3 separate regions of the Homo sapiens genome follow, and all the other regions are linked to region 1. Evidence: fine-mapped expression QTL. A gene starts in region 1. Each other region holds a variant in brackets. All regions are shown on one strand. Distances are from middle to middle. Region 1 holds the start of PIGT (phosphatidylinositol glycan anchor biosynthesis class T). Region 2 has its middle 7.3 kb from the start of SYS1. Region 3 overlaps RBPJL (recombination signal binding protein for immunoglobulin kappa J region like).

Region 1 (10,473 bases):
AGGAGGATTGCTTGAGCCGAGCAGTCTGAGACTGCAATGAGCCATGATCATGCCACTGCACTCCGGCATAGCTGACAGAGCAACAGTCTGTCTCTTAAAAAAAAAAAAAAAAGGCTGCAGGGTGTGTACAGGGGATTATTACACTATTCTGTTTGGGTTTGGGTTTGAAATTTTCCAAAGGAGAAGATTTAAAAGAATAATAACAGAAAAACCTATAGAATATGCAGTTAGGATGTCTGAAATAGAGATTTTGAAGGTGGTACAAATAATGGTGCTGAAAATAAGTGAAACTATTCACCGTATGTTTGAAAATATAGGAATCAACTAAAGTACTGAAAGGTTTTTAAGTTTGGCCGTTTGGGATATGGTACAACCTCTTCCTCAGAGGTCTTTTACTTTACTACTAGTCTCCCCCTACACCAAAGAAAGGCAAGTGCTTTAGTGCTATGCCTGGCACCTAATAGGAAGCACTAATATTATCTTCTCCTTAGAAAAATAATAGAAAATAAAAATAAATTTTAATAAAAATAGAAATAAAAAAATTTAATTAACTGTACCTCTTTACCCCTCCCAAGGAAGCAAAACACCATCTACTCCAGCTCTGCTATCTTCCTAGCTTCAAAAGCCTAACGTTGCCAAACCCTTTCCCTACCTTAAAGAGTCTATGAATCATCACAAAACCCAATGCTCCAGAAAGGAGGCAAAAGTAAGTGAAAAAGGAAGCTACTGTCCTTGTACAGTCCTATTAAGAATCACCAGTATTATGTGTTTTAATTATTGCTGTTTTATAAATTACTTCTGAACCTGGCACAGTGAGGCTCCCGTTCCAGTTTTGAGAAACTATTCCTTACTCTTTATGCCTGTGTAGCTTTTCAGAGGTACTTCAGGAACTACCCTGGGAAATGAGAGTTTGGGGGACCTGGAGAGGACATGAGAGGGCGGGCTGGGGGCCTGGTTCAGGACTCAGGTCCTCACTTGGTTTGTTCTCCTTGCCCTTGGAGGTGATGGTGAGGGTGTGCACATACAGCCGCAGATACCAGGGTACGGTGTCCAGCAGCAGCACCGGGAAGGCCCGGTATGGGTGGGTGTTGTACAGCAGTGTGCTCAGCTCCCCCTTCTGCAGCCCATAGCCACTCACGTACCGCTGGGCATGCAGGAAGGGCACTGGGGGGGCCTCTGTGTAAAGAAATATCAACAGTTAACAGCTGCCAAAGGTAAGAATCACTCCCCACCCCACCTGCCCAGGCCATGTTCAGAGTCCCAAGCCAGTGAGTAGATGGGGAACAGCCCTGCCACTGAAACTGGGCAATCTGGGTTCTGGAATCATCCCTGTCTTCCCCAGCCAACAAGCGATGATGACAATAGGTTGCTAGTATTGAAGTGCTTACGTGACGAACACCGTGCCCCCTTCGAACCCAATCCAGGTCCTCTCAGGATATTCTGCTCTTTCCCTTGGTAAGGGAACTGAACACAACTGTAATTAATTAACTGACACCTGCCCTAGCTAGTAGACTTATATTTCTTGAGTGCAGTGTCCTCTGTCTTATTCAACACTCTATGCCTGGCACTTAGTATGAATTCAAAAGTATTTGGTTGATTAAGCAAATGCATGAACTAACTCCATTTTTCACATCATCTCATCCAATTTGCTAAGTATACTCTATTTTTCAGATGTGGATGCTGAAGCTTGGGGAGTTTAGGAACCTACCCAAAATCGTAGAGCTTGGAATAGCTACAGTCAGCAGCATATGACTCTGGAAATCTGGTCTAAATACAACCCAATCATCTAACGGCAAAGACGTGGGATTGTGAGTCTTTTCTCTGTAGCCGTTGCAACCCAGCAGTCCAACCAACCACCCACTCACCATTCTCTGGGGGTCTCTTCCACTTGAGCTGGATGTTGAGGTTTCGAGAGTTGTTGATCATGGCGGTGTCAAGCAAGTCATAGATGGCATAGGTCTTCCGAGTGCCTAGGATGACGTCCTGATATGTAGTGGTCGGGGGTGGGTGCACCTCTAATGTCTCGTTGTCCTGGGGACACAAAGGCAGGGCTAAGAAGCAAGCAGAGAGGGTAGGCTGGTCCTGGGGACCAGCGGTGTGTTTGTGTGTGTGGCTGGAGACCTTGTTACCTGGTTGTAGGTGGTGATGTCCACATAGACTCGGCTCTCTGAAGCCAGGGGGCAGGGCTCCGTGAGGGTTCGGGAGAACATCCGGAAGAGGGACCAGTCTGAGAAACAGAGCGCAGGGCTGAGCAGGGGCCAGGCCTAGGCCTAGTCCACATAGATAAGGCAGGGCTGGCATGGGTGGGTACAGATGAGTTGCCAAGGTAACTTACCTTTCTTTCCCTGCCCCGTGATGAAGGCATCAAATACAACTGACAGGGTCTGCCTCAGCTCCCAGGAGATGCTAGTACAGCGTGCATTCTATCACAAGGGCCAGATGGCAGCAGTGAGGGGGTATCACTCTCACCACACAGCCCCCAAAAAGACTCCTACTCAGACTCAATCCCTCATCTATGTATCTTCACATCCATCGATTTGCTACCACCCACTCCTGAGCACTTGACCTCGTGCCAGACCCCGTGCTGACAGCTGTATGTGCATCAGTTTGATAAACTATCACAACAACCCTAGGAGTGGATTCTACTATCAATGTCATGTGGCAGGGTGGGAAACCAAGCTCAGGGGAATGAAATGATTCACCCAAGGTTACGCCAGCTGGCAAGTGACTGAGCTAGCAATTGCACCCGCATAGCTATTGTTCTGAACCACTATTTTCCATGACAAATATTTATTCAGTGCTTGCTAGGCAACCACTGTTTTCTTGGTGCTTGGCCAATGCCCTGAATAACCGTCATCACATCTACCACTCAGTACTCACTCAGCCTGAGCCAGACACTGACCACATGCTTTACATGTACCTTCTCTGAGCCCCTGGATGGCAGCTTCCTCTACTCCCCATGACTTACTCTGCAAACAGGGCGGATATGCACTGCCTGGGAGTGGTAGCTGGTGTGGAACAAGCGATCTGCCTTCAGCAGCACAGAGAGGCCTGCCTGGAGGAGATGGAAAGAGATAAGAGAAGCCCTGTATGGAGCACTTGGCATGGGGCGCAGGTTCTCTATACACCCCCCGCCCCCGGCTGCCAGGCTCTGCGGCCTCACCTTGGAACTACAGGGCAAGAGCTTCTTCCAGGGGGTGAGGTTTTCGGTGCAGACCACCTCCCGCGGCAGCACAGCATAGCGCAGAAAGTAGTGGTCAGTGTCTGAGGGAGACAGAGGTCTGTCTGGGGTGGGCCTTGGGCTCTGACCCCTCGGGATCCACATTCCAGAGATGGGAATGACCCTCCTGCTCCCCACACCACCTCTAGCACCACAGTCTGGACAGTCCCAACTGGGAGTAGGACTCCCTTCTCTCCTTGGGAAAAGGCATGCAGAGATGGCACAGTATTGGGGGCCTGCACACACAGGGGACTTAGGATCTAGCCCAGGCTGAGGAAGCAGGAAACTGAGGGAAAAGGAGGCAAAGGTTTGGGCAGGAGGTAAGAGGAAGAAGGAAAGGGCTGTAGGGGTTATCTCACCATTGGCCAGACCCAGGGGTTTGAAGGAGGCAGTGGGAGTGACTGTGTTGGTGGAGTCGATGAAGTTGAGAGAGGCGCAGAAGATCCCTGAGAGGACATTACTGAGCTCCTTCCAAGATTTATCCACACTGGATAGAGACACAAATCCACTCACTGTCCTGGGGCTACCTCTGCTCCCTCTTTCAAAGTCCACAGCTGGCTGCTAAACCTATGATAGGAGGAGGCTGTATTCTTAACTATTAGACGGGCCAGTTGATGGAGCTGGAACATTGCTGCCCCCAGCCAGCCCACTTGCTGGGTCTCATCCTACTCAGCCCCTTCTTCCTCACTCTCCTCTGGACATCTCTGCATCCCCATGGGTCTCTGCTCAGGTGATTCTTCCTTCCTTGCAAGCCTTTGCTAACTTCTTTCTGCCTACCTTCATGATCCGGCTCCAGTGCTTACCTCCCCTCCACGAAGCCTTTCCTGCCCTCCTTAAGCACAGTCTCCTCTGTGCAGTCACGGTTCTGACCATCCAAGCATCTTACTAGGTCCCTCCTGGGAGATGGCTAGGTGGCAGCAGCATCGTGTCCTGACCACCTTTTCTCCCTAACTAGGCTGTAAGCAACTTGAGGACAAGGACCAGTCTGGGTCATCTATGTACTTCCCCTGACACCATGGAAAGCGCCTCATGTATCAGAGCTGAAATGAGCTCACTGATCTTCCTTGAATGTGCTGGGCTGGGCAAAACAATGCATACTACCCTGTGTATACTCTGGGAATAAAGGTAAGTCCTGATTCTACTATCATGGTGAGAAGTCTTATATCCAAAAAAGCTCACTGAACATGGGAAAAACAACTGTTCTAGGATTTCATAAAAACATCAAATTAAATTAATGTTCTTTTCTTGGAGAAATATCAAAAGAGATTTGCTCTCAGTAATAGAGAAAGCATAAAACTTAATAAGCACTAGAAAGAATTCTAAGCATTTGCTCCACATTTCAGGCAATTACGGGCTGAGGGAAGACAGTGACAGCAGAGTAGACAGGAAAGGGTAGGGGAGCCAGAGTTGAGGCAAGAGAGAAAGTCTTGGCAAGCTGGGGAGTTACTGCTTATTCCTTATTCCTTAGTGTTGTCCAGGAGCTTTTGATAATTCTATGTTCAGAGCTTTTCAACTGCTCCAATCCTTAAGCCTCAAATAAAAATGGCAAACTTGAAGCCGGAAAGCTCTACTCAAACCATAAACATGCTTCATTTGGTATGCACAACATTGACCCGCACAGCACTCAAAAAATTTTTAAATTACTTGCTGATATTTGAATTTGCCAATTTTCACATTAAATTCCAGATTTCTGGTATCTCTTGAAAAATGAGGCCAGGTGTGGTGGCTCTTGCCTGTAATCCCAACACTTTGGGAGGCTGAGGCAGGAGGATCGCTTGAACCCAGGAGTTCGAGACCAGCCTGGGCAATATAGTGAGACCTTGTTTCTACAAAAAATTTTTAGAAACATTTGACTCTGACCACATTAGGCCTCTATTCCCACATGGCAACAATCCATAGAAGCTGAGTGGCAGAGCTGTCCTCGTTAGAATGTCACACAAACTCTCTAGCCTGCCACAATTCCTGCTGCTCCTTTTTATTGCCCTAAAACTTGTTATATCATACTTGCACTATTGATTTCTTATAGTGGGATTAAGAGGAAAATGAGATATATTTCTCATTCCTGTGTTTGTCAATTTTAAAAATACCTTTATTCATTCCTTACCTGTGTGGCCCATGTAGACCTGTTTGCAACCACTGCACAGAAAGGTTCTATTCTAAACAGGATAGCCACAGCAGCCACTGGGAAATAGCGGTTTGTAGTAGGCACAGTAACTAGACCTGCCCCCTCCCAAACAAAAGCAGTTCCTCTAACACTGTGATGTAGCATCCTGTTGGCCAGTTGTAACCCACAGATATGTTATGGTTGGCTTTCGTGGTATTTATTATCATTTAAAAAATATTAATGAATGCCTTTTAAAAGGTTATCCAGTTGCCAGTTTTCTACTGCCTTACCTCCAAATAAGCATTAATTGTTTGCTATTTGCCTCTCCAGGGATATGCATGTGCTACCTCAGGTCTGAAAGTTTTAGGATTGGGAAGTTTATTCATCTGTGGTAACATTTCTTACTTCCAATGCCAGCTCTACCCCCATGGAATCGCTGCCTACTGGAAGTGCTGTCCCCAAGAGCAGTGGCAGGATGACAACACTCTCCCAGCCACATTCCCTCCATGGCCTGCAACAGGGCCCAAGGTGTGCACTCACTCAGTGACAGTGTCTTGGAACCAGACCCACAGCTCTGCACCTGATGGGGCCTGCAGGAAGGGTGGCCCCCAGTATCGGGTCCTCCAAAAGCCTTGTGTGAATGACAGGTGCAGCTCCCGTAGAGAATACTTGGAGATCAGCTGCCCCAGGGCTTTGGGAAAGAGCCTGTAATGGGACACTGGGGAAACGGGAGCAGGTGAGTGACGATCCCCACCTCGTCGGGGTCCACACCCAGGATCCCGAACTCTACCCAGGAATTAGGCCCCGCCCCCAAAGTTTGCCTTCATCCCACGGCCGGCCAGCCAGCAGGCACTACGGAAATCTTTCCCTGGTCAGATCTCGCGCCCTCACCTCCTTCCCGCTGAAGCTCCGAATCCCAGCGCGTGCGGAACTGGAATGTGGCGGCTACGTCCCCGGAAGGCAGCGGGGTGATGACAAGTTCCTCCCGCAGGCTGTCGCGTGGGGGTTCTGCAAGGCACCAGCCGCCGGGCCCCAGGAGCAACAGGACGAGCAGAGCAAGCGGCATAGCCGCCGCCATGCCTGCGGCTACTTCCGCCTACCCAGCGGCGCTCGGCCCCATGAAAAGCCGGTATCCAATAAGAAAGGCGTGTGAGAAGTGACTTCCGCTGTCGTCCCGGAAACCGGGATGCGGTTATCAGAGCGACCGCCTGCGCAGGTCGCGAAGATTCCCTCAGAGCTGGTGGGTCTAAGGGGGTACTGGGAGGACACGAGAGGGAGTAGGCAGGGCGAGTAACCAGCTTGAGGCCGCACCTAGTTCATGGCGTATTCCACCCACCAGGAAATGCTTAATAATATGAAGCTCCTTCACTGCCATTTTACCCATTTGATAGTTGAGGAAACATTGACTGAAAAAGATCAATTACTTTTGGGAAAACCATTGTGGTTTTAATTTGCATTTCCCAAAGTAAGAGGAACCTCCTGCCCCTCTTAGCTTCTAGTGTCTCCATTTGCTGCAAAACCCCCAAATAAGTGGTTCTTTTATTACGAAAATGTTCAAACAAAATTGAAAGAATGAGCACCTGTTACAATAAACCTATTTTCCACCACCTAGATTCTACTATTTACATTATACTATACTTGTACTTTACCACATATTTGTCTATACATCCATCATTCCATCTTGTGTTTTGGTGCACTTCAAAGTAAATTGCAGACATTAGTACACTTTCCTTTAAGTAGTTAAGCATGCATATAATTAACTAGAGTTCAGTATTCGATTGCATTTTGATGTAAAATTCACATACAGTGAAATGCACAAATCCAAAGTACACATTCACTGAGTTTTGACAAATGCACACACCTATGTAACCCGAACTCCTATCATGATACAGAACATTCCTAAAACCCCAGAAAATTAGCAATACCCTTTCCTAGTCAATCCCTGCTCCTCTATCACCTTCCAGAGGCAGTTAGTACCCTGATTTTTTCCCACAATAGATTAATCTGTTCCAGAACTAAATATAAATGAAATCATATAGTATGTATACTGTGTAAGGCTTTTTTTTTTCTCATGGGAAGAATGTTTTTGAGAATCATCCATGTTCTTGCATGTATCCACAATTCTTTTTATTACTGCGTAGTATTATTAATTTATCCATTCAACTCTTGATGGGCACTTTTAAAGTTTTTGGTTATTATTAACAAGGCTGCTGTCTGTGCAAGCTCCTTTGTAGACGTATATTTCTCATATCCTTTGGCCAGGTATTTAAGAGTGGAATTGCTGGGTCAGAGAGCAGGTGTATGTTTAATTTTATAAGAAACTGTCAGACCTTTCTCCAAAATGTATCATTTTATGTTTCCATAAACTATGAGTCTCCATTGTACCACATCCTGGTCAGCATTTGAAGTTTCTAATTTTTTGTACTTTTTAGTTTTGACCACTTGGGTATGTATGTAGTGTTTGCTCATTGTGGTTTTAATTTGCATTTCCCTGGTAACTAAAAATGTTAAGCATCTGTTCATGTGCTTATTTGCCATTTATTTTTTAATTTAATTTTTATTTTTTTGTGAAAGGTCTGTTAAAGTCTTCTGCACCCTCACCCCTTTGTTTACTGGCTTGTCTTTTTATTGACTTTTTCGGAGTTCCAAAGTTAAAGTCATGCTTTAGTTTTTCCACCTGCCCTATGGGAAACACATTCATGAAGGATTTCATGAACAGTCTCTTGGTGACACTCATGACCACACTTCTAGAAAGAGCCAATTTGGTGTCAGGCAGGTCTGCCAAGATATGCGCCAACCAACCAGACATTTCCAGAAAGGAAATGTCAGAAAGATGTCTTTATCTCATTATGCCTTCATTCTGCCTGCATTCAGTGTTCCTGCCCCATTAGACACGAAATATTAGGAAGGCCATGGGCTTAGATGTCAGAAAGACAGGAGTCCAAATCCCTATGCCAGCCTTTAATCCATATGAGCATGATCAACCCAAGTGTCACTTTTCTTCATTTGTATAATGAAGAAACCTACTTTCAAGGTTGTTGTTAAGATGAGAAATTATGTACATGTAGGATATGGAATGTAGCAAGTGCTTAATAGTAACACTCAACCCTGTCACCTAGGCACTAATATGTAAATGTAGATAATAGTGCCTAAGTGATAGGGTTGCTTGAGTGTTATTATTAAGAAGTACATAAACTAAGATAATAAAGATTACAATGAGTGATGGAGCTAGGACTATAGTCTACACTATCAAACCTCAAAATAATACTTTTTTAAAGGTAGCTGCCATCATTATGACTATTTTGTACTTCTCTGTTTTCCTTTTGAAATTGCCCATCTCCATCATTCAGGACCCAGCCACCTCTAGTGAAGACTTACCTTCTCCTCCTCTAGTGGTCTACAGGCTTCATGTACTTCTGCTACATCTCTCATCACATTGTTTCCATTACCTGTGTCTGTGTCTGCTCCTGGAAGAGCTCATGGTCACCTTAGTATTTCTGTTGCCTAAGCAAGGTGACTGTCACATAGTAGGTGCTCAGTAATGTGTGAATGAATGAACAAACAAGATGACATCATAGCACAGTTCTGTATTTTCCCTACTCTGCCATGCTGTTCAGTGTCAAGTTCTGTGCACTCCTGGGGTTGCTACAGTGTAAGCCTTCTAAGGAAACTTTTTCTGAGCTGTGGTGCCTCCTTTCCGAAGTGTGTCAGGATGTCCACCCTATGACAAGTCCGTGCAAATATCAGAAGCCACGCTGTAGCTTGGAGACTGAAAGCTGGGCTCCTTGACTTAGAGTTGGCTCCAGATCTTCCTCCCACCTCCAAAGGCACTGTGTGGCCTCAAAAACCAGACAGCTAGGCTCTGGGCTGCCATAAACCACGGTTTAACTTTAATGCAACACTATAATCAAATGGTGAATCTGAAGATTATCATTTTTTTAAAAAGTGACCATATTGAATATGGTGTTTTATAGTCTACTCTTTCTTTCAAGAGTTATCATAAATGTCTTTCCACTAAAAATATGTGGTGGGTAGATGATACAATCTTGGTACTATTTTGATGATTTTTTAAGCTGTATGATGAGAACCTGGGATATTTTTCTTTCTATATTTGTTGTACGTTTGAAACCCCCATAAGTTTTTTTAAAAAAACAAAGAAACAAAAAACAGTCAGCTGGAGATGATGGTTCTGAAGGCCAGCCAAGCCCCTGTGGTTCGGCAGGAGAAAAGGTTATTGTCCCAACTAGGAAGTAGTCCTGGGGTCTCAGCTGACACTAGACTTTTCCAGGCAGGGCTGGGGCTCATAGCAGCCAAACTGAAGGCTCCCCATAGGCTCAGAAACAATTCTACTTCTCTAGAGGGCTGTAAATCCCTCTCTCAAGGCAGGCTCCCCACAATCTTCGCATCATGTGCCTGGGCTACTAAGAGATTTATTGACATGTTGACGGCAACCAAGCCAGTCTAGCTTCTCATCGTTCACCATGGAAGGAAGGGGGGTGATCCTGGGAGCTGAGAAGCCCTGCACAGCAAAGCTATTGGGATCATGGGCCGCAGCCCAAGAGATGGCTCAGCCACAGTCAGACAGGAGGTAGATAGAACCTTGCTACTCTAAAGGAAGGAAGGAGAGAAGCCACAAGAGGACAGAGATTATGTCTTCTATGTGCAGCAAGGTCATAAGCAACCCAGAAAAACCCCAAAAGTTAATAGAGGACTGGGCCCTGGCCCAGCTCAGTGGATGATCTCAACTTGGACCTAGAGGCTTTTGCACAGAAGGTATTCACTCCACAAGCTTCCTAGAGACAGGGAATGGCTGGTGGACACTCCTACTTCCCTGGAGTTCCCACAGGTTTCTCACTAGTGTTAGGAAAAACACTTAGGAACAGATACTTACACTGGCCTCCTGCAGGGGTGAGAGCAGGATGGGACAATAGGAAGACTGCAGCCTTGTCACTCAACCTTGGGTGGCACAAAAAGCTTTAGGATTTTGGCTGAAGGTCACTGATCCCATGGGTGATGTTCAATGTATGAAGGGAGGTGGACTGATTTTTTTTTTTTTTTTTTGAATGTGAGAAATGAGTTGATGTTCCTTAAGACTGGGTCCTATAACCTCTTCTTTCATTCAGCATTCTCTCCCTGGGCATTCTCTCCT
Region 2 (10,473 bases), 61 kb after region 1:
CACAATCTGAAAATATAGCTATTGTCCCCTTTTTATAGGGGAGGAAACTAGGCTTGGGGGGAGGTGGTGTGACTCTCTAGGTCAGAGAGCTCACAGGGAGCAGAGCTGAGATTCAAATTCAGGACAACTGACTCCAAACATCAAGATGACTTTTAGTTTAGTTTTGGTTTGGTTTAGTTTGGTTCTTTGAAACAGGGTCTCAATCTGTCACCCATGCTGGTTTGCAGTGGCGCAATCATGGCTCACTGCACCCTCAAACTCCCAGGCCCAAGCCTCGGCCTCCCGAATAGCTGAGACCACAGGCATGTGCCACCACACCTGGCTTTTTTTGAAACGGAGTCTTGCTCTGTCGCTCAGGCTGGGGTGCAGTGGCATGATCTTGGCTCACTGCAACCTCCGCCTCCCGGGTTCGAGCGATTCTCATGCCTCAGCCTCCTGAGTAGCTGGGATTACAGGTGTGTGCCACCATGCCCAGCTAATTTTTGTATTTTTAGTAGAGATGGGATTTCACCATTGTGGCCAGGCTGGTCTGGACTCCTGACCTCAAGTGATCTGCCCGCCTCAGCCTCCCAAAGTGCTGGGATTATAGGCATGAGTCACCATGCCTGGCCCGCACTTGGCTTTTTTGATTTTTCATTTAATTTTATTTTTTTGTAGAGACAGGGTATCCCTATGTTGTCCAGGCTGGTCCTGAACCCTGGGCTCAAGCAATCCTCCCACCTTGGCCTCCCAAAGTGTTAGGATTACAGGCATAAGCCGCTGTGTCCAGCCAAGATGCCATTTTAGAATAAAAGAACAGGAAAGAAGGGAGGAAGGGAGGGAGGGAGAGGGAAATAAAGGAAGGGAGATAGTAAAATAGGTGGTGGAGTAGCAGGAAGTGGAAAAGGGGCAGTGAATCTCTCTGCTCAGTTAGCCCTGGGGTGAGGGATTAGGGAGAAATGGGAGGAAAGGCTTAGAAAAGGGCTGCAGAGGTTGACAATACCCAGGGCAGCTGTCTTCCTTGCAGATGCTGGAATGCGTGGCTCTTCCTGGGCTCTGCTCCCTTCACGTCACAGCTGGGCCCACTCCACCCCATCTCCTCCCAATAGGAAAGGCCCTGCCTACCCATTCTGCTGAACTAGAAAACACAGGTAGCTTTTGATATTAGGGCTGGCTGGAATGTCTGATGTCATCCCTGGAGTCCGGAGCTCACCTCTGGGAAAACCCCACTGGGCGTGCAAGCTAACCTCCTGCCCTTTCCTTTCCCCTTTGGGAGTTCAGTTCTTGGATTCCCGCCTTGCCAAGCTTCGGAAATGTACATCATCCTCCGTCTTAATTTGGATCCAAGAAGGAAACCAAGAGCTGGGGAAAATCATGGCAACCCCTTTGTTTAGCTTCATTGGCCCATTTTCAAATTTGACCACAAGCAGTCTGCTTCAGACCACAGAGTCTGAACTAGAGCCCCACTGGCTTGCTATGTGACCTTGGGCGAGTCCCCTGGTGGGTCCCAGTATCCCAAACTATCAAATGAAAGAGGGACATTGGACTCCGACTTGCAGATGCTGTCATGGCCCTGTGCCATCTGAATCACCTGAGGAACATACTGGATATTCAAATTTCCAGTCCTTGTTTGCAAACCTAAGTCCAGTTCAAGTCTCCCAAAGCAGAGTGTGGAAATCTGTGTATTTAGAGAGCTCCCCAAGTGATTCAGAGGTGCACCCACATTTGATAACTACAGCACAAGATGATCTGTAGTTGACCCTAAACCGGCTCCTTCATCCAACAGAAAACTGCTCTGTGACCTTGGCGAGTCACATTCCGGCTTCAGGGTTTTCTTCCATCTGTAATATGAGGGGATTGGATTTGAATAGCTAGCTGGTCTACGAGGGTTCTTCCTACGCTGCCAAGTCTGTGGTTCCAAACTTATGAATGAAATGTTAAACTTCAGGTCAGAGGCAGAGTGACGAAAAGCCACAAGCTGGGACAAACTGTCCTTTGGGTGGAGGGGAGGGGAGTGCCTCTGGTCACTTGGTCTCTTTCGTCACTTTCACACTGGGGCCCCACTGCATGCATGTAAGGACAATCGCTAAGGTCACCTTCTGGATCCACCCCCATAAATCCCTTGGGAAATGTTCTCCCATAGGCCCATAGGCTTGAGAGCCCTGCTTAGATTCGAATCCTGGCTCTCTGGCTGTCTTGCTGTCCTGCTGGGTGACCTTGGGAAAGTTACTTCATGTCTCTGAGTCTCAGTTGGTTTCCTCTTCTATAAAGTGGAGTTCAGAATAGTACCCATGTTATGGGCTGTCCTGAGGGTCAAATGTGTGCTTAGTCCACTGCCTGATATGCAGTGGGCACTATGTTAACCTCAGCAATGTTAATATGATTGTTATTATTTCTTCCTCTGGAATGTGGGAACGGAAATGCCTGATCTCAGATTTATGGCAAGGATCTAACAATGTATCAGACAAGTCAAGCCCGGTGGCTGGCCCATAGTAAGAGCACATTAAATGTGATACCTTCTCTTCCTCCTCTCACCCCTACTGTCGTGTTCTCTAGATCCCTCCCTCTCTCCCTTCCTCCCCCTCTCCCTTCCTCCCCCGCTAGGCTGCCCTACTGCCCTGCTCACATGTTTCCTTTCAGGGAATATTTGATGAAGACACTTCAGTAGAAACACGTGTCTCAGGGACACGTTATGCAACTCTGTGCTCACAGGTTTTTGGAAACCCCACGTGGGAGGCTTGGAGTTGGCTGCCTGTCCTCTACATCGGTGACCATCCTGGGCTCTGGCCAGTGAGTTCCTCTCTTAGAAGGAAAACTGGAGAGAGAGCTCATTAGCTGCCTGGTTTCTCCTCCAGACCGAAAACCCCTTTGTTACCCAGGTTGCTTTAAGTGCTGTTTGTGTCTGTGTTTGGGGAGGAATATTTGCTGAGCATCTACTGTATGACAGGCACTTATATAATTTAATCCTTATTTAATTTCTAAAACAAGCCTGTGAGTTGAGAACTATTAATAGCCCCACTGAACACATGCAGATCCTGAGGCTCAGAGAAGGGACATTTACCCAGAGCCATGCTGCCAGTGAGTGGTAGAGCTGAACTCCAACCCAGGCCAGTTTGACTCCACACACTATTCCTTCTCAGTGTGTAACAAAAAGCGCACTGAAGGCCAGGCAAGGTGGTTCATGCCTGTAATTCCAACACTTTGGGAGGCTGAGGTGGGTGGATCCACCTGCAATCAGGAGTTGGCGGCCAGCCTGGCCAACATGGAGAAACCCTGTCTGTACAAAAAATACAAAAATTAGCCAGGAGTGGTGGTGCATGCCTGTAATCCCAGCTACTTGGGAGGCTGAGGCAGGAGAATTGCTTGAACCTGCGAGGCAGAGGTTGCAGTGAGCTGAGATTGTACCACTGCACTCCAGCCTGGGTGACAGAGTGAGACTCTGTCTCAAAAAAAAAAAAAGGCACTGGACATTACAGTGACATACAGCTTTCATCTACCTGACCTCATCTTATTGTTGCAACAGCCCCAGGGATGTAGGTATAAACATTGTCCACATGTTACAGGTAAGGAAATTGAGGCTTAGAGAAGGAAGTGACTCACACTCAGTACACATTGAGGTGTGGCATGTCTTGTCAGCTGGAATAATCAAAAGTTAAGAAACATCTGGGGTGTCTGTCTTTCCACTCTAACTTTCCACCCCAACCTCCCTGTTCTTTCCTTCACACCAGAGGGAGTCAGGAAACTGGTTTTCTGTGTTCTGTGTCTAATGATCAGGGGTTTTCTGCAAACCCTCTATCTATGCAGGGTGGATGATGCCAGGCATGACAGTGGGTGGAAGGACCTCTGAGTACAGCCATCCCTCAGCATCCATGGGTGGTTGGTTCCAGGACTCCTGGCAGATATGAAAACCCAGAGAAGCTCAAATCCTTTATATAAAATGGTATAGTATTTGCATATAGTCTATGCAATCTTCCCACATTCTTTAAGTCATCTCTAAACATCTAATACAATGTAAATAGTTGTGAAACTATATTTTAATTTTTATTTGTATTATTTTCATTGTTGTACTGTTGTTTTATTTTATTTTATTTTTAAGACGGAGTTTCACTCTTGTTGCTCAGTCTAGAGTGTAACGGTGTGATCTTGGCTCACTGCAACCTCCGCCTCCTGGGTTCAAGTGATTCTCCTACCTCAGCCTCCTGACTAGCTAGGATTTACAGGCATGTGCCACCATGCCCGGCTAATTTTGTATTTTTAGTAGAGACGGGGTTTCACCATGTTGGTCAGGCTGGTTTCGAACTCCTGACCTCAGGTGATCTGCCCACCTCAGCCTCCTAAAGTGTTGGGATTACAGGTGTAAGCCACTGTGCCCGGCCTTTGTTGTTATTTTAGAGACAGGTCCTTGCTCTGTCACCCAGGCTGGAGTGCAGTGGCGCTATCATATCTCACTGCAGGCTCACACTCCGGGGCTGAAGCAATCTTCCCACCTCAACCTCCTGAGTAGCTGGGACTACAGGTGCATACCATCAGGCCTGGCTATTTTTATTTTATTTTATGTAGAAAAGGAATCTCACTATGTTGCCCAGGCTGGTCTCAAACTTCTGGGCTCACGTGATCCTCATGCCATGGCCTCCCAGAGGGCTGGGGTTACAGGCATGAGACACTGTGCCCAGCCTCACACCTTCAAGTTTTCTTACCTTGATTCTTGACCCCATCCATCATGTACTAAACTTTCTGTCCCTACCTAGAAATTATTCTTTATTCTGACCTTAAAGGACTCAGGGCCTTGTTTTAAGATGAAAAGTTGTTTTTTTACACTTCCTTTTTATCATTATTTATTCATTCAATCATCTACTTGATAAATATTCATTGAGCATTTATTATGTGCCAGAAACTGATCCAGGTGGTATGGATATAAATGAATAAAGTGAATAAAGAGAAAATACTCTAATCTCATAGAGGAGAGAGATGATAAACAAGTCAATCAACAATATAAAATCTAGCGTCAAGGAATGTCAGTATACTCAGAACACCAACAGTGTGGGATTCTGTTATAACATCAGAAAATGGATGAATACAATATTTATCTCTGCTCCTTTTAGGACAGGACACTTGGGAATCAGGAACAGGAATCAGGGCTGTAAGTTCAGTGAGACAGCATGGTGATGCAGACAGAATCAAAGAAACTTGAGTTTGAATCTTGTATCAGTCAGCTTTTGCTACTTAACAAACACCCCACAAATCTCAGGGGCAACAGAAATGGATTTCTCAATTGTAGATTTGCAGGTGGGTTAGGGCAGCTTTGTTACAGTTACGGTTTTGTTGTCATTTCTCCTTGCTCCGCCTGTTTTCTCATCTGTAAAATAGAGATAAAACTACTTACTTCACAGCATCCAAGTGAAGATGATGCTCAACACTCCCTTCTGATTAAACATACACTCTGCTCAGGGTATGTGAGAAGCTAAATGTTCAACCTCTAGGCCAAATAGTAATCCAAAAAGTGGTCTGGGCTGCAGGCGCTTACTTAAGGAATAAGGAAGGCCATTGGCCAAGCCAATGAGTCTTGTGGTCCCCTCCCAAAATTTAGACTAGAAGAGAGAACCAGTAAGTCAGTAAAAGAGAGAGAGGCACACATCCAGGAAAAAGAAGAGACACTCTTAAAGAAAGAATAAGCAGGCTTAAAGAGCAAGAGATGAGTCAGCCAGTCTGTGGCATCATCTCAGTCCTTGATGTTTCCCTTTCAGTTTTAACCTTTAGCCCTCCCGGTCCTCCTAATAACTCCTAAGCCTTTTCTTAAGGAGTCCTGAGTGAGGCATGTTTCCTCGCAATTGCAAGAACTGAGCTAAGACAGAGAAGATGCATATAAAGTTGCCAGCCCACAGCTTGGCATATAGTAGATCCTCAGTCTACTGTATAGCTGGCAGCTATTGTCCGCTAATCAGGGAGCTGCTTAAGAACACGGACAGGTCTTGTTCACCAGGATTTATCAAAAAGCTTCTCACATACAAGATATTCATCAGATGTTTTTTGGATAAATGACCAAGTGAGTGAATTGCTACATCTGAGCCTCTAAGGGAAAATGTCCAAATGGCATTCATCCAGTTATCCATGCGACAAGTATTTACTGAATGTAAACCTCTGCCAGACCTTGGACAAGGTGCAAGGGATGCAGTTGTGAACACAACAATGTTCTTGCCCTCATGAAACTTACATGTGGCAGAGAAAACAGAAAATAAACAAGTAAAAGAATAAGTG[C/T]GTGATGGCAGGTAAGGGAAATGTTACGACAAAAAAATAAAGCAAAGCAAGTGGAAAGAGTAATTGGAGGTGTTATTTTTAGAATTCTTCAAAATGCCTGTGGTGGATGCTGATTCACCGTGTGGGCCTCGGTTTGCCTATCTTATAATGCGGGTACTGTTGGACTGAATGATTTGAGAGGACCCTTCTGGGCCTAGTGTTCTTAGTTTCTGTGGTTATGCAAGGCAGTGGCTGGACATTCCACAGCCCCTGGAAACTCTAAGCTGTCATTATCTGTAGCTGGAGAGAGATTTACATAAACTGAGGAAGACCAGAAAGGGTTGGCACCATCCTGGGCGAGAGCCCTATGGCCCAATCCTTTTTCTGTTCTGAAAATAGTAATGTGTTACCTGTTATTAACCATGTGTGAGGAGCTGCTGGGGAGGGGAGTAAGTCAAGACTCTTATGGGGAGGCCCCCTTGATTATAAAAATAGATAACACTTTGATGCTCCGTATTGTGCTAAGCACTGTAGTCTTAACATTTTTATGATGTTAAGAACTATAATGACCCTCAAATTACATGGGGGGACACATGAGAAAACTGAGGCACAGAGAGAAAAAGTGTCTTGCTCCATACCACCAAGATTGCAATCTAGGTCTCTTTAACTTTGAAGACTGTGCTCTTCACCTAAAACTAACATGAGTGAGAAAGGGATGCCTGCCCAAAGAGTGGGACAGATAGAGTCCTAGAAACCTCAAGGCAGGAAGAAATGAGAATTAAAAGAAGAGGATGGAGGATTCCAGGAGAAGGTAGCATTTAAGGTGTCTCTGGATGTACCAGGTGTGCACCTAGCCTTGGTTAACTCCGGCCTAGGAAGTCTGAGAAAAGGGGGAGGGACACCACCTCTGCTATAGGCTGGGTCTGAGCTCATTTTTTAGCTCCATGGGAGGGGGCTGCCTGTTGATGTCCTAGATCATTTCCTTTTGCTTGAAAGGAAGCTAGGGGGAGGATGTAAAGTGTTTGACCAATGCCATCTCTCAGACTCACTCAATCTCAGGTTAGAATATACAGAAAGAGTGCTGGACCCAACATAGGTGAGTATATGTTATGTGTTCACCACTTCACCTTATTCCATTCTCCTAATTAGTTCAAGAGGGAATTATCTCCATTGTAGGGAGGAGCAAAGGGACTCACAAACTTTCCTCCAGTTGGCAAGTCCTGGAAACAGGATTTTAATGAAGAACTTCTGGCTGTAAACACTGTGGGTTTTGTTTGGTTGTTTGGGTTTTTGTACCTCAGCCCCATGCAGGAAATTAGGAACTCCTATTCAGTATTACAAACCTTTGACTACTGCATTTTGTTTTTTGGAGGCCAAAGAAGAACCCAATAAAACTTCTCAAAGAATCTCAGGTTTTGGACAAATTATTTTTAACTCTTTGGGGGTCAGGATCACCCAAAAGGAGGATCCCCCAAACATCCTCTTTTTGTGGATATAAAGAAAGAATCTGAAGTTTCTTGCCCCAAAATAATGTATGCAGAGACACATAACCTAGAGGAGTACTGACCATGCATGTGTCCTCTGCCCCCAGTCATGGAGCCCAGGTTAAAGACCCATACATCCACAAATAATTATATTCAAACATGTTGCATCCCTTTAGAGATTCTCAGAACTTGGGGAAGGGGAAATTATTTCCTTAATTCCAGGAGGTTAAGATAGTTTTATAGAAGAACTTCCATTAACTCTCTAAACGAGCTGTTTTCAGTTTTTGTTTTTGTTTTTTTGCTAGTGTACTCTGTAAATGATTATTTTAAGACTAGGTACTCCTTGACATAATTTTTAGTTGATAGCTTAACATTTTTCATCAAAAGTTTAAATAGTTGCAAAGGTTGTAATTTCTGGCATATTGTAAATTTATACACGTAAAAGTAAAACAATTACATCACTCTTTTAAATGTATCCAGTTAAATTAAATGCCCTAGCAATTCGATACCTACAATCATCCATTTAAAAAATACATGAACAAGCTCTTTTCTAAGAGTCAGACATTTTGCATCATTTCTTTTTCTATTTGAAGTCAAATTTCTACTCCATGTTCCACCACAAAATTTTATCATAATGTGTTTTTTTTTAATGCGTCAGAGGCTTACTGATGACTCTTTTAAAAAGTCCTGCAATAATTTAAACAGCTTCATTAAGGTACAACTGGCATAAAATAAGCTATACATATTTAAAGTATACAATTGACATAAATATATGCTTGCTGTGTTAGGCTGTTTGCGTTACTATAAATATATGAGATTGGGTAATTTATAAAGAAAAGAGGTTTAATTGGCTTACAGTTCTGCAGGCTATACAAGCATGGCTCCAGCATTTGCTTCTGGCGAGGGGCTCAGGAAACTTCCAATCATGGCGGAAGGTAATGGGGTAGCAGACATCTCACATGGCATCATCAGGACCAAGAGACAGGGAAGGTGGAGTTCCCAGACTCTTAAACAACCAGATCCAGCGTGAACTGAGAGTGAGAATTCATTTATCACCAAGTGGATAATGCTAAACTATTCATGAGGGATCTGCCCCAGGATCCAGTCACCTCCAGGCCCCACCTCCAACATTAGGAATCACATTTCAACATGAGATTTGGAGGGGACAAACATCCAAATCACATCACTCTCTAAACCAGTCCTACAAACTTTGATAAATAATTATTAAGTAGAAAAAGTAAAGTTGTTTTAGAAATACCTGTCTTAATTAGGTGGCTGTGGCAATTTTTCTCTCCAATTAGCTCACTAAAACCTCCATGAGATTGGGTATAGTCGCTCATGCCTGTAATACCAGCACTTTGGAAGGCCGAGGCACGCGGGTCACTTGAAGTCAGGAGTTTGAGACAAGCCTGGCCAATGTGGCGAAACCCCATCTCTACTAAAAATACTAAAATTAGCTAGGCATGGTGATGTGCACCTGTAATTCCAGCTACTTGGGAGGCTGAGGCACAAGAATCACTTGAACTCAGGAGGCTAAGGTTGCAGTGAGCAGAGGTTGTGCCACTGCACTCCAGCCTGGGTGATGGAGTGAGACTTTGTCAAAAACAAACAAACAAACAAACACCTCAACGAATATTGCTAGAATGAAACAGGTTTTAGCAATAATTTTATTCCTATTTTTCATTTTTTATAGCTGTCAAACCATGGTGTGGTAAAGCCATCTTGTAGTGGTTCATGAAAGTCAATTTTTAGAAATTTTGTGGCTGGGTGCCATGTAATCCCAGCACTTTGGGAAGCTAAGTTGAGAGGACTGCTTGAGCCCAGGCCTTCAAACCCAGCCTGGGCAACATAGTAAGACTGTGTCTCTACCAAAATAATAATAATAATAATAATAATAACAATAACAATAATAATAATAATTAGCTGTGCGTGGTGGCGTATGTCTAGTCCCAACTACTCAGGAGGCTGAGGTGGGAGGATCTCGTGAGCCTGGGAGGTTGAGGCTGCAATCAGCCATAATTTTGCCACTGCACTCCAGCCTGGGCTACAGAGAGAGATCCTGTTTTTTTTTTGTTGCTTTTTTTTTTATGTCATTAGCCAGTTGTTAAACATAACTATTACTAAAAATTAATTTATATGAACATACAATTATATTAAAAAAAAAGGAGGCCGGGTACAGTTGCTCACACCTGTAATCCCAGCACTTTGAGAGGCTGAGGCGGGTAGATCACGAGGTCAGGATATCGAGACCATCCTGGCCAACATGGTGAAACCCTGTCTCTACTGAAAATACAAAAATTAGCCGGGCATGGTGGTGTGTGCCTGTAGTCCCAGCTACTCTGGAGGCTGAGGAGAATCGCTTGAACTTGGGAGGCGGAGGTTGCAGTGAGCCGAGATTGCGTCACCGCACTCCAGCCTGGGTGACAAATTGAGACTCCGTCTCAAAAAAACAAAAACAAAAACAAAACCATAAAGGAAATAAATACTCAAAACTCATCACTTACTAATTATCTCACTACACTTTACTGTTATCCATGCTTTTGAGATTATTTGCACCTATTGTATCTGTGTGGTAGAAATATATCTTCCCAGCTCCATGTTCAGTGACATCTCATTGGTAGCTTGAAATCAGCCATGCTGGTAGTATTTACACTACAGAAATTGGCAAATTAGCACTCGCCACTTCCCCTAGCCAATTGTCAAACATTTACTGGCACACCACTGGCTGTAAGTGCTGAGAAACTTATAAAAGTTGGTAGGAACAGAAGAACTCTTG
Region 3 (10,473 bases), 100 kb after region 1:
TGGTCCCATTGAGGGTCTGTGGGAATACAAGAAAAAAGCCTGGGGCCAGGGCTGGCTTCGTGGTTGTGCAGCCTGTGCTTGGAAGGCCCCTGCACTTGGTTTCATCATTTCCTGTGGCTGTCTTGAAGTTCTTTTTTTTTTTTTAATCCCGTGTTCAGTCGAATTGAAATTCTTGAATAATTTTTGAACAACGGGCCATTTTGCACTGGGGCCCACAAATTATATAGCTAGTTCTACCTAGAGTAGTTTGGGAAATTTTGGAAGAGGCGACACAGGACCTGGCAGGGCAGTAGTGGAGGGAGAGGAAAACAGGAGGCATATGGTAGTGTGGAAGTGGGGGTGGGATCCTTAGGCCTGGGTGACTGGGTGGTGTGGGGGAAGGAGCTAGAGGTGGTGCTGCAAGGCAGGTGGAGAGGGAAAGGAGTTTGATGTTAGATGGCTTCAGACTCAGTGCAAGGAAGACCTCCAAGGACAGTTTCAGCAGCTGGAACTCAGAAGCTAGGCCAGGGCTGGAGCTTTGGTCACAGACTTCCAGATGGATACCTTGGGGACACCAAAGGTTATAGGATCCCCTGAGATGGGTGAGGACTAAGACAGAGCTGTATGGCTGGGTCTGGGCTTTTGGTCCAACCTAGATTATTGGCTTCTGGGACTCCTGCCTTGAGGAGTGGTGGAGGAAGACTTTGGGGGCAGGGCTGGACGATGAGCGCTTGAGCCCCAATTCCCCATGTGGTGCGCTATGACACTCTTCTCAGCCTCCTCCCTCCTGGCTGCCTGCTTCAACACCACCATGGACGGTGAGTCAGGCGCTCATTTCAGGGACATTTCCCATTCAACTCATTTGCTGCCTTCCTCAGCCAAGATTCACCTTCAGGGGCCACAGGCTTCTTCCTCACCCCTCACAGTGGGTTGCAGCCTGCTGATGGCAGATGGCAGAACTTAGTCAAGACTTTGGGAAGGCTAAAGAACATACCCCATTTCCTCTCCTCTGCGTATTGTTCGTTTCTTTTTTCTCATGGGACTTTCCATACCCTGGGGGAGGAGTTTTACAAGAAATGAGCTCTTCCTTAGGAGGGCAAGCTCTTCTCCAGAGGGTTAGAACCTAGAACCCACATTTCAGACCAGTTTTCCCATCAGGCACCACCAGAGGCTGGTGCAGGTAGCTGGCACCCATGATACTTATCTGTGTCCTTGATTCCAATAGCCCAAGCCAGTGTTCTGCCTGGTTTTTTTTTCCTTCCCTATAAAGCACAGACTGGGTAGAGTGGTACCTAGGGTGGGTAGGCTGGTGGGGAATAGATTGTGATTCTGTCCATCAGCCCCATGCAGAGAGGCCCCCCTCTCAACTACATTACTGCCCAGTCAATCCCAGGAGTTCTGCCCAGGGCTATCCTGGGAAAGCTTTGTTTTGAAAGGGTCCCGTGGTCACCTCTGGGCCTGGGGTGCACCCTTGCTTGGGATGGAGAGATAGCTAGTAGGGTAACAACCCCAGGGCAGGGACAGGGACTCAGGATGCCAGCTGCCTCTGCACCCTGTTCCTCCTCTAGAAAACGTCCAAAAGGTAGGCTCTCTGCTCCATCAGACTTGTGGTTCTTTTCTTTCTGTGCAGGTCCCCTCTTTTGTGTGTTGGTGCGAGGGTTGGGGGAGGCACACTTGGGGAGGTGGCTCATACAGACCAAACTCTGCCTTGGATAGGATTGATTTTAATGCAGCTGTAGAATCCCTGATCCTCAGGACTGCGTCCTGCTGGGCCTGTGGGAGAAGTGACTGGGGGGGACAGTTAAGGCGGCAAGACCTCATCACTGTCCAGGCACCTGCCCAGCCACCAAATCTGTGGACCAGGGAGCAAACACAGGCAAAGGTACTATGCCTGGCTGCAGTCAGAGAGAGTCTCGGGAGGAGCAGGTCTTTGTGCTCTAGGGCAGGACACAGTGCTCTAGGTGGGAACTGGTGCCCCAGGTGGGACCGAATTCCCCAGGTGAGACTTAGAGAGACCCGGTGCTCCAGGTGGATCTAATATTCCAGGAAGGACCTGGTGCTCCAGGGTCCTGATGCCCCAAGAGCTTGCCCCCTATGCCTGGATGTGTGAAGCTGTGTGTTTTCTCTTCAAGAGGGGACACAGATGCCTGGAGGGTAAATGTCCCAAACTTGGCTCCTCGGGGCATGTAAAATTGTGTGTGAGAGGCAGGGAGAGCTGAAGAGAGAAAAGGACAGAAGGATAGGGACACGCACATAGGTCTGTAGACTAAGTACTGAGGGGGAAGGGAGAGAGAGAGAGGTTTAGAGACAGAGTGAGAAGAAATGAAGACAGGGAGAGCCATACACGACGGACACAAAGACAGCACCACTCAGGTCTTGTCTTCCTGTATGTGTAAGGACAAGGGAGGGAGTGAGCCGGGTAAGACCCACCAGGCCCGGTTTCTAGGGTGAGCCTTCAGCTGCCCTTCTGCAGCAAAGGGGCAAGGAAGCAGGGCCTAGAACCCAGAAACACGTCCCCGCGCCTGGCGCGGGCGCAGCCCTCCAGGGTGGGCAGCCGGGGCTACCGGGCGCGCCTAAGTCTGGATGAAGAGGTGGAAGTTGGTGCGCGTGAACTCCTGATGGATGCTCTCCAGGAGCGCGTCGGCGTCGGTGGCGGGCTCGGGGACGCCGGGGTGACCCGGCCGCACGCTGTATTCCGGGGTGTAGGTGAAGGAGAAGGCACTAGGGTAGAAGAGCCCGTCGGCGCGCACCAGGCTCATGGGGATTGTGATGGGAGCGCGCAGCCAGCGCCAGTCGCTGCAGAAGGCCGCCACGTCCGGCACCACGCACACCAGGGACCGCGGGCTCCTGGGGGTGGAGCACCAGGGTGAGGGCTGCGGCGACTCCGACGACGCGTGCACCCCCTTCCCCTGCTCCCCGGGGCCCAAGAGAGGCTGCCTCACCACCCCGTACCTGTACATGGTTTCTGCCTCCACGTCCCCAAACCACACCTTGAGCCCCGCGTGGAAGTTCTCTCCGTGGAGCTCCAGCGTGGCCACGTCGCCCCCGCCGCTCAGCTGGGGGAGGGTGGGACCAGGTGAGGTGAGAGAACCAAGTAGGGCGGGAACCCGCTGCCCCCCACTCACTAGCACCACCACTGCCCAGTGCAGGCAGGGTCCCCCTGCCCAACGCCCCTAGCGCCCGGCTTCACCTCTAGGGTGCTGATGAGAGGCACCGGAGTGACCGGCTCCAGGGTACACGCCAGGCTGGTGCTGAAGGAAAATTCCACCGACTCGGTGCCGATGATGGTCCAGCAAGAGCTGTCGTTAAGCAGAGCCCTGTTCGCCTCCTTGGGGCAGGGAGAGGCCTGGGAGGAGACCCAAGGGGACGAGGCCGAAGCTTCTCATGGTGGCCACCAGTGTAGGGAGCCAGCATGGCGCGTGGGCTTCTGCGTTAGACCGAACTGGATACTAATCCTAGGCTCTGGGGTTCACTTGTCCCCTCAGCTTGGACAGTGCCCTTAAGTTCTCTCACTTAGCGTTAAGAAAGCTTGTTGAGCTAGCTGATTTCTTCTTTCTTCTTTCTTCTTTCTTTTTTCTTTATTTTCCTTCCTTCCTTCCTTTTCTTTTTCTTTCCCTTTCTCTCTCTTTTTTCCTTTCTTTCTTTTTCTTTCTTTCCTTCCTTCCTTTTCTTTCTTTCCCTTTCTCTTTTTCTTTTCTTTCTCTTTCTTTTCTTTCTTTCTTTCTTTTTCTTTCTCTCTCTCTCTTTCTCTCTTCTTCCTTCCTTCCTTCCTTTCTTCCTTTTTTTTTTTTTGAGACTGAATCTCGCTCTGTCGCCCAGGCTGGAGTGCAATGGCCTGATCTTGGCTCATTGCAACCTCCGCCTCCCGGGTTCAAATGATTCTCCTGCCTCAGGCGCCCGGGTAGCTGGGATTACAGGTGCCAGCCACCACGCCCAAATAATTTTTTTGTATTTTTAGTAGAGACAGGGTTTCACCATGTTGGCCAGGCTGGTCTCAAACTCCTGGCCTCGTGATCCTCCTGCCTCAGCCTCCCAAAGTATTGTGACTACAGGCATGAGCCATTGGCCCGGCCTGGGATAGCTGATTTCTAAGGGTCTTTTTTCTTGGGATTCCAGAATTTTTTTTTTTTTAACATTGTGCAATTCTATGCTCTAATAATCTACAATTTTAATATTCTTTGGGAAGGAATATTCTTGGGGAAGGAATAATACTTGCTATTTTCCACATATTATAATTCTATCTCGTAACATTCTATGATAATATTCTTTTGGGAGTACTACTGCTTAACGATAATTATTATTTTCCACATTCTATAATTTTCCACATTCTGTGTCTTTATCTGTGCTTCGAATAGTCTTTGCTCATTAATTCTCTGCTCTCTATTACCTATCATGATTTTTATTTACATCCTACAATTTTATATCCCAATTTATTTACTTACTTTTTTTGAGATGGAGTCTTGCTCTTGTCACCCAGGCTGGAGTGCAATGGTGTGATCCTGGCTCACTGCAACCTCCACCTCTCAGGTTCAAGCAATTCTCCTGCCTCAGCCTCCTGAGTAGCTGAGATTACAGGCGCCCACTGCCATGCCCAGCTAATTTTTGTATTTTTAGTAGAGATGGGATTTCACCATGTTGGCCAGTCTAGTCTCGAACTCCTGACCTCAGGTGTTCTGCCCACCTCAGCCTCGCAAAGTGCTGGGATTACAGGCATGAGCCACCGCACCTGGCTATATCCCAATATTTTATGACTCTAAAATTCTTTGGGAAGGAATATTGCTTCATACTATTACTTATTACTATTTTTCTACATCCTATGATTCTGTCCTGGGAGTCTATGATTTTAATGTTCCATGGGAGGCTGCTCAGGAAGTAGCAACCATGGTGAGGGTGATGATCTTACATTCTGTGGTTCTCTGCATTCTCCCTTTCCAGGACACTTGGTGCTGGTATTCTCTGCTTCTTACCTGAAATTGCACCACCTTCTCTGTGGCAAGGCATAAGTAGGTGCCACCCCCTCCTGGGGGACTGCCTGGAAACTGGAATGCACACTTGTGCAGCTGGGAGATGGGCTCATCCACATCAAGGAGCGCACACTGTTTTGCTACTTTACGGATGATCTGCAATGGAAGGATGGTAAGAACAGTGGTGGCAAGGA[G/T]CCCGGGCGTCCAGAGGCTGCCCTCCTAGCCGGCTGTCTGCTACTCCAATAGCCACACAGGCACTAGCAGATTCCCCCTGCCCTTTGACTTCTGTCTGGTCCTACGCGACACTGGGTGAGAACAGGTGTCTCCATGCCTTGGGGCCTCACTCTCCAGCCCTGCCCGTGTGTGCCACATTCTCTGCATGGATCTGAGGGGACCCCTCCAGGCATGCCCTCCCTTCCTATACCATGGGAGGTAGTGTGATGCCGGTGACCGTGCAGACGAGCTGCACCAGGGAGCCATAGCGAACGTAGCCCTCTCGCGGTGGGAAGTCTCCTTGGGCAGAGTGCCCATCAGCTGGGGGACAAAAAAAGCAAGGGACAAGGTTTTCAGCGGCCCCCAAGCTTCTGCCTTAAACCCTGCCTTGTTGCCTCTGGCTCTTCCTCACATCACACATGGGCCCTGCGGGAAAGCTTGGTACTCAGGGGAGCCAACTGAAGGTTCTAATTCTGGAGAGGCCATTTGAGGCCATCCTCACAAATGTCTGCCCTGGGGGCAGGGGTTGGGGGCAGGCAGCTTAGTTGATATATGGGGAAAGGGCATGGATAAGGGAGTCAGAATAGCTTGGAACAGTCACCAGCTCACTGGGACTGTAGTCAAGTCTTTTTGTGTTTCTGAGCCTTAATCACATGGGGCAGAGTTTACCTTCCTTAAGGAGTTGTGGTGGAGGTTAAATAAGCTAATGCATGTGAAGTGCCCAGCTCCAGGGCCTGCAGATGTCATTACCCAGGTGGAGCGTGAAGGCAGCCCACTGTCGTGCACTGGCCACAAAGGCCCCATCCTCCACAGAGAGGTAGCGTGTGGAGACCGTCTGAGAGCGCAGGCGGTTGAAGAGGGAGACCTTTGAGCCGGAGGATATGCACACTGTGAGGGTGAGGGTCAGGGTTAGGGTGAGGGTGAGGGTCAGGGTTAGGGTGAGGGGATAGGGTTAGGGTTAGGATTGGGGTTAGGGTTAGGGTGAGGGTTAGGGTGAGGGTGAGGGTTAGGATTAGGGTGAGGGTTAGAGTGAGGGTGAGGGTAAGGATTAGGATTAGGGTGAGGGTTAGGGTGAGGGAGGGGGTCAGGGTGAGGGTTAAGGTTAGTTGGTGCTATCAGTGCCCTGTCCTGGCTTGGTTCCTTGGACTTTCCAGACAGTTTCCAATCTTCTGTCCCTGTGCCGGCCTGGCTAATGTGCCCACAGGCCTAGATACACTGGGCATTCCCAGTTCACAGCTGTTTTTCCAGGACCTGCTGCAGTCCTGCTTTGGAACCTTTGCCTGTTCCTTTGCTGTCTGGACATCTTTCAGTTCAACAAACAAAAGTAAAACTTTTTTTTTTTTTTTTTGAGATAGCATCTCACCCTGTCACCCAGGCTGGACTGCCGTGGTGCTATCACAGCTCACTGCAGCCTCGACCTCTTGGGTTCAAGTGATCTTCTGATCTCAGCCTCCCACGTAGCTGGGACAACAAGTGCAGGCCACCATGCCAGGCTAATTTTTCTTTTTCTTTTTTTTTTTTTTTTTTTGGTACAGACAAGATTTCGCCATGTTGCCCTAGCTAGTCTTGAACTTCTGGGATCAACTGATCCGCCCACCTTGGCCTCCCAAATTGTTGGGATTACAGGCATGAGCCACCGTGCCCCACCTATGTCACTTTTAGTCTGTCCCTAGTTCAACTCCTGCCTAGTTCAACTTTTGTCTGCTCTGGGACCCCAACTCCCAACCTGGAATTTGGTATCTGTCCCTTTCCTCTCTGCTTTTCATCCTCCAACTCTTCTCATCCCCAGGCCTGGGCCGCACCCACTCATCCAGACTCCTTCCCCTCTCGGCTCCGACTCCACCTTTTCCACTCTGACCCCTAAGCCCAGCCTACCCCCACCTCCGCGCCCCAGTTTAGCCGTTCTGGGCTTGGTTGCACCTCCCCGCCCGGGCCGGGGGTCAGGCCCCGCCCTGCTCACGATCGGTGTTTTTCAGCGACTGCTTCTTCTGCGAGGGCTTCGAGATGACCTTGATAAGGCGGCTGTGGAAGGTACCCAGCTCCCGGCCCCCGCGCAGCACCAGCCGCAGCACCAGCCGAAAGTGCTTCCTCTTGTCTGCATCTGAGATGTACAGGGTCTTGGCGCAGCCGAATTCCTAGGGGGCTCACAGGTACAGGGCCATCTCATCCCAGCCCTCCCCCGTCGGATGAACCAACCTCTCCCAGATATCGGACGTCCGCCCCGTCGGAGGTGACCAGAAGCTCCACCATCCAGGCTCTCAGGCTCGGCCTTAAGGCAGGACCCCGGCCTCCCGGTCTCCCCACCTATCTCTTGGCTTTCGGAGGGGAGTAAAGGAGCCCTCCTTTCCCAGGAGAGGCAGGGATGGGAGCAGGAATCGGACCCCTTCCCGTGCGCTCTCACCCTGGAGTCCGGCTGCTGCTCGAAATTCAGCTTCTGCGTCTCAGTGGCGCTGCCGGACGCGCTGTCCAGTCCCATGTAACCGCAGACCGTGGGCCCCGTTTCCCCCGCCTGGTGAGCTGGAAAGGGACGCGAACTGGCTCTGCAAGGACTCGGGAGGACGCAGGTGCCAGGCAAGCTTAGCGCTCGCCGCCAGAGGGCGCGGGGAGACTGCGCCTGCGAACCGCCCCGTCTCGGGCCCAATCTCGTGGTCCTCCCTACAGAGCAGGCGGCCGGCAGCCCTTGATTCCGCCCTCACCTTGATCCTGCCCTGGCTTCACCCTCCAGCCAGGCCCCGAGAGGTAGACACAGGGCGGGGGGCAGAAGAACCTGCGGAGATAAGTGAGTGTTGGAGTCGTGCATCCATCTCCACTTGGCTCTCCTGTAAGCACGGCAAGGTAGTAGCATAAACCCAGCAGAACCTTCGTTTCCTCCTCCCGCTCCCCGCAACGCTTTTTCACGACTGTAAACCCCATTCATAGCCAAACCTTATTGTTTTTACACCCCTCATTCAACTCATCAGAAGGTCCTGTCCACTCCACCTTCAAAATATAATATATCCAGAATCCACTGGCTTTTTACCACCTCGCCCTTCATCCCAGCCGCCATTACTTTTTGCCTGGACCACAGCATCAGCCTTCAAACTGGTCTATTTCCAGAAAGTTCTGTTTCTATCTCCTTCCCATTTCGCACAGCAGCCAGAGTGCTCCTTCCTTCCTTCCTTCCTCTCTCTTTCTTTCTTTTTTTCTTTCATTCCTTCCTTCCTGTTTCTTTCTTTTTCTTTTTCTTTTTTTTTTTTTTTGAGGCAGGGTCTTGCTCTGTTGCCCAGGCTGGAATGCAGTAACTTGATCTCGGCTGTCTGGGCTCACTGCAACTTCTGCCTCCCCAACTGATCCTCCCACCTCGGCCTCCTGAGTAGGTGAGACTACAGACACAAGCCACCACACCCATCTAATTTTTGTGTTTTTTGTACAGACATGGTTTTGTCATGTTGCCCATGCAGGTCTGGAACTTCTGGGCTCAAGCAATCTGCCCACCTGGGTCTGCCGAAGTGCTGGGATTACAGGGATGAGCCACCAGGCTGGCCAGAGTGTTTTGTTAAAAACATGAGTCAAATCATGTTAACTCCTTAAAATCCTCCACTGGTTTAAAATTCAAAGTCCTCCTGAGATCTGACCCCTGCTTACCTCTCTGACTTGTTTCCTACAACTCCTCCCTCTGATTTCAGCCACTGTCATTTCTTTTGTACCTCAAACAGGCCTAATTGGTACAGCCTCAAGGTCTTCCCATTTTCTGTTGCCCTTTTTTTTTTTGAGACTGAGTCTTGCTCTGTCGCCAGGCTGGAGTGCAGTGGCATGATCTCGGCTCACTGCAACCTCCGCCTCCCGGGTTCAACCAATTATCCTGCCTCAGCCTCCTGAGCAGCTGGGATTACAGGTGCCCGCCACCATGCCCAGCTAATTTTGTATTTTTTGGTAGAGAGGGGGTTTCACTGTATTGGCCAGGCTGGTCTCGAACTCCTGACCTCAGGTGATCCGCCCGCCTCGGCCTCCCAAAGTGCTGGGATTACAGGTGTGAGCCATCGCGCCCGGCCCTTCTGTTCCTTCTAATTGTAGCACGCTTTCCCCAGATATTCTCCTGTCTGGCTCCATTTCAGCATTCAAGTTTCAGTTCCAATGTTACCTCCCAAAAGGTCTCTCAACCTCCTTGACCTTTCTAGCTAATGTCCCCCCTGCCTTCAGTTTCCGTCAAATGGCCTCGTTCAGTTTTCCTTCTAGTGCTCATCATAATCTGCAAGTATCTTGTTTCCTGACTTGTGGGGAGTTTACTGTCTGTCTCTTCCACACTTGAGTGAGAGTGTGGGCTACAGAGCAGGGGCTGTTTCTGTCTTGTTCAGCTGTATGCCCAGTGCCCAGCAGTACCCACAGAGCCTGGTGCATACATGACAAACACTCAGTAAGTAGTTGTTGAATGAATGAATAAGTGAATCAATGGGAGAATGAGTGAATGAATGGAGACAGGAGATTCACAGGGAATCTCCTGCTGTAGAACTATAGACCAAAGTGGGGGCTAATGGTGGCTGAGGGTCAAGGCCCTGGTCGACCAATAGCTGAGATCTCAGCCCTGAGGCCTGCTCTGCGTCTAAAAGAGGCCCAATGGGTGGATGGAGGAGGTGCATAGGGCTGACAGTTGCAGAGACCTGGGAGGGGCTGCGGAGGCACCTACCGCTTCTCATTTCCGTATGATTTCTGGGCCACCTTGGCATGCAGGATCCGCACAGTCTGTTCACACTGTTGCTGCAGGCACCTGCGCACGCCTCCCCTCAGAATGGTGGTGTGCTCTGGGGATGACCTGGGAGTAGGGCAGGCAGGTCGACCAGCCACAGGAGGGAGAAGGGTCAAGGTGGCACAGGGTCCAAGCACTCAGGTTGAGTAAAATGAAGTGAGCAGGGGGTTAGAGTGAGTGGGAGGGTGGGGCTGCTCTATATCCTGCCCCTGTGGGGTCAGGAAGAGGAAGCATTAGGTAAGGAGGAGACTTGGCTGCAAATTGTAGGCTAAATATTTAGGCTGCAAGGTGCTCAACGAAGCCTGCATGGAACCCATGGGACCACCCAGGTTCCACTCTGTGGGTCTGGCATCATGCCCATTGGAGCCCAGGGCCATAGGGACACGTGGCTGTGACACAAAGGCTGCACTTATACTGGCCTTGGGATGGAGAAGAGTATTTTAGGGCTGATGGAATTGGTAGAGATGAAGCTTCCCCACCCTGGGGAAGGCAGGGTGGGGGGTGAGGAGGGAGGGGAAGGGAGAGCCTTTCCTGGGCTCCTGGCCTGGAGCGCTCTCTAGCCTCCTGCCTGCAAACAGAAAAGGGCCCAAAACC

Evidence for each region. PIP is the estimated chance that this variant, and not a neighbour inherited with it, causes the effect.
Region 2: its variant is fine-mapped to the expression of PIGT in whole blood (TOPMed, PIP above 0.99).
Region 3: its variant is fine-mapped to the expression of PIGT in whole blood (TOPMed, PIP above 0.99).

The regions. Positions count from the first base shown.
Region 1 is chr20:45,412,086-45,422,558 of GRCh38, reverse strand. It overlaps PIGT (phosphatidylinositol glycan anchor biosynthesis class T), which reads right to left and starts at 6,418. Exons shown (of 12, transcript NM_015937.6): 1 at 6,216-6,418; 2 at 5,865-6,042; 3 at 3,580-3,707; 4 at 3,164-3,264; 5 at 2,969-3,055; 6 at 2,336-2,423; 7 at 2,130-2,227; 8 at 1,866-2,031; 9 at 976-1,176. The coding sequence starts at 6,402. LOC107985405 (a long non-coding RNA gene) reads left to right here and starts at 4,176. Exons shown (of 2, transcript XR_001754640.2): 1 at 4,176-4,345; 2 at 5,742-10,473. RefSeq lists an enhancer at 2,890-2,949.
Region 2 is chr20:45,350,632-45,361,104 of GRCh38, reverse strand. No RefSeq gene overlaps it. Among named protein-coding and RNA genes, the nearest start is that of SYS1, 7.3 kb to the left of the region's middle. The variant C/T (reference allele first, on the strand shown) is at 6,235.
Region 3 is chr20:45,309,039-45,319,511 of GRCh38, reverse strand. It overlaps RBPJL (recombination signal binding protein for immunoglobulin kappa J region like), which reads right to left. Exons shown (of 12, transcript NM_014276.4): 3 at 9,820-9,945; 4 at 7,853-7,923; 5 at 7,558-7,673; 6 at 7,117-7,291; 7 at 5,907-6,044; 8 at 5,368-5,477; 9 at 4,947-5,099; 10 at 3,170-3,325; 11 at 2,932-3,035; 12 at 1,688-2,826. The coding sequence ends at 2,553. Among named protein-coding and RNA genes, the nearest start is that of MATN4, 6.0 kb to the right of the region's middle. RefSeq lists a silencer at 7,840-7,889. The variant G/T (reference allele first, on the strand shown) is at 5,138.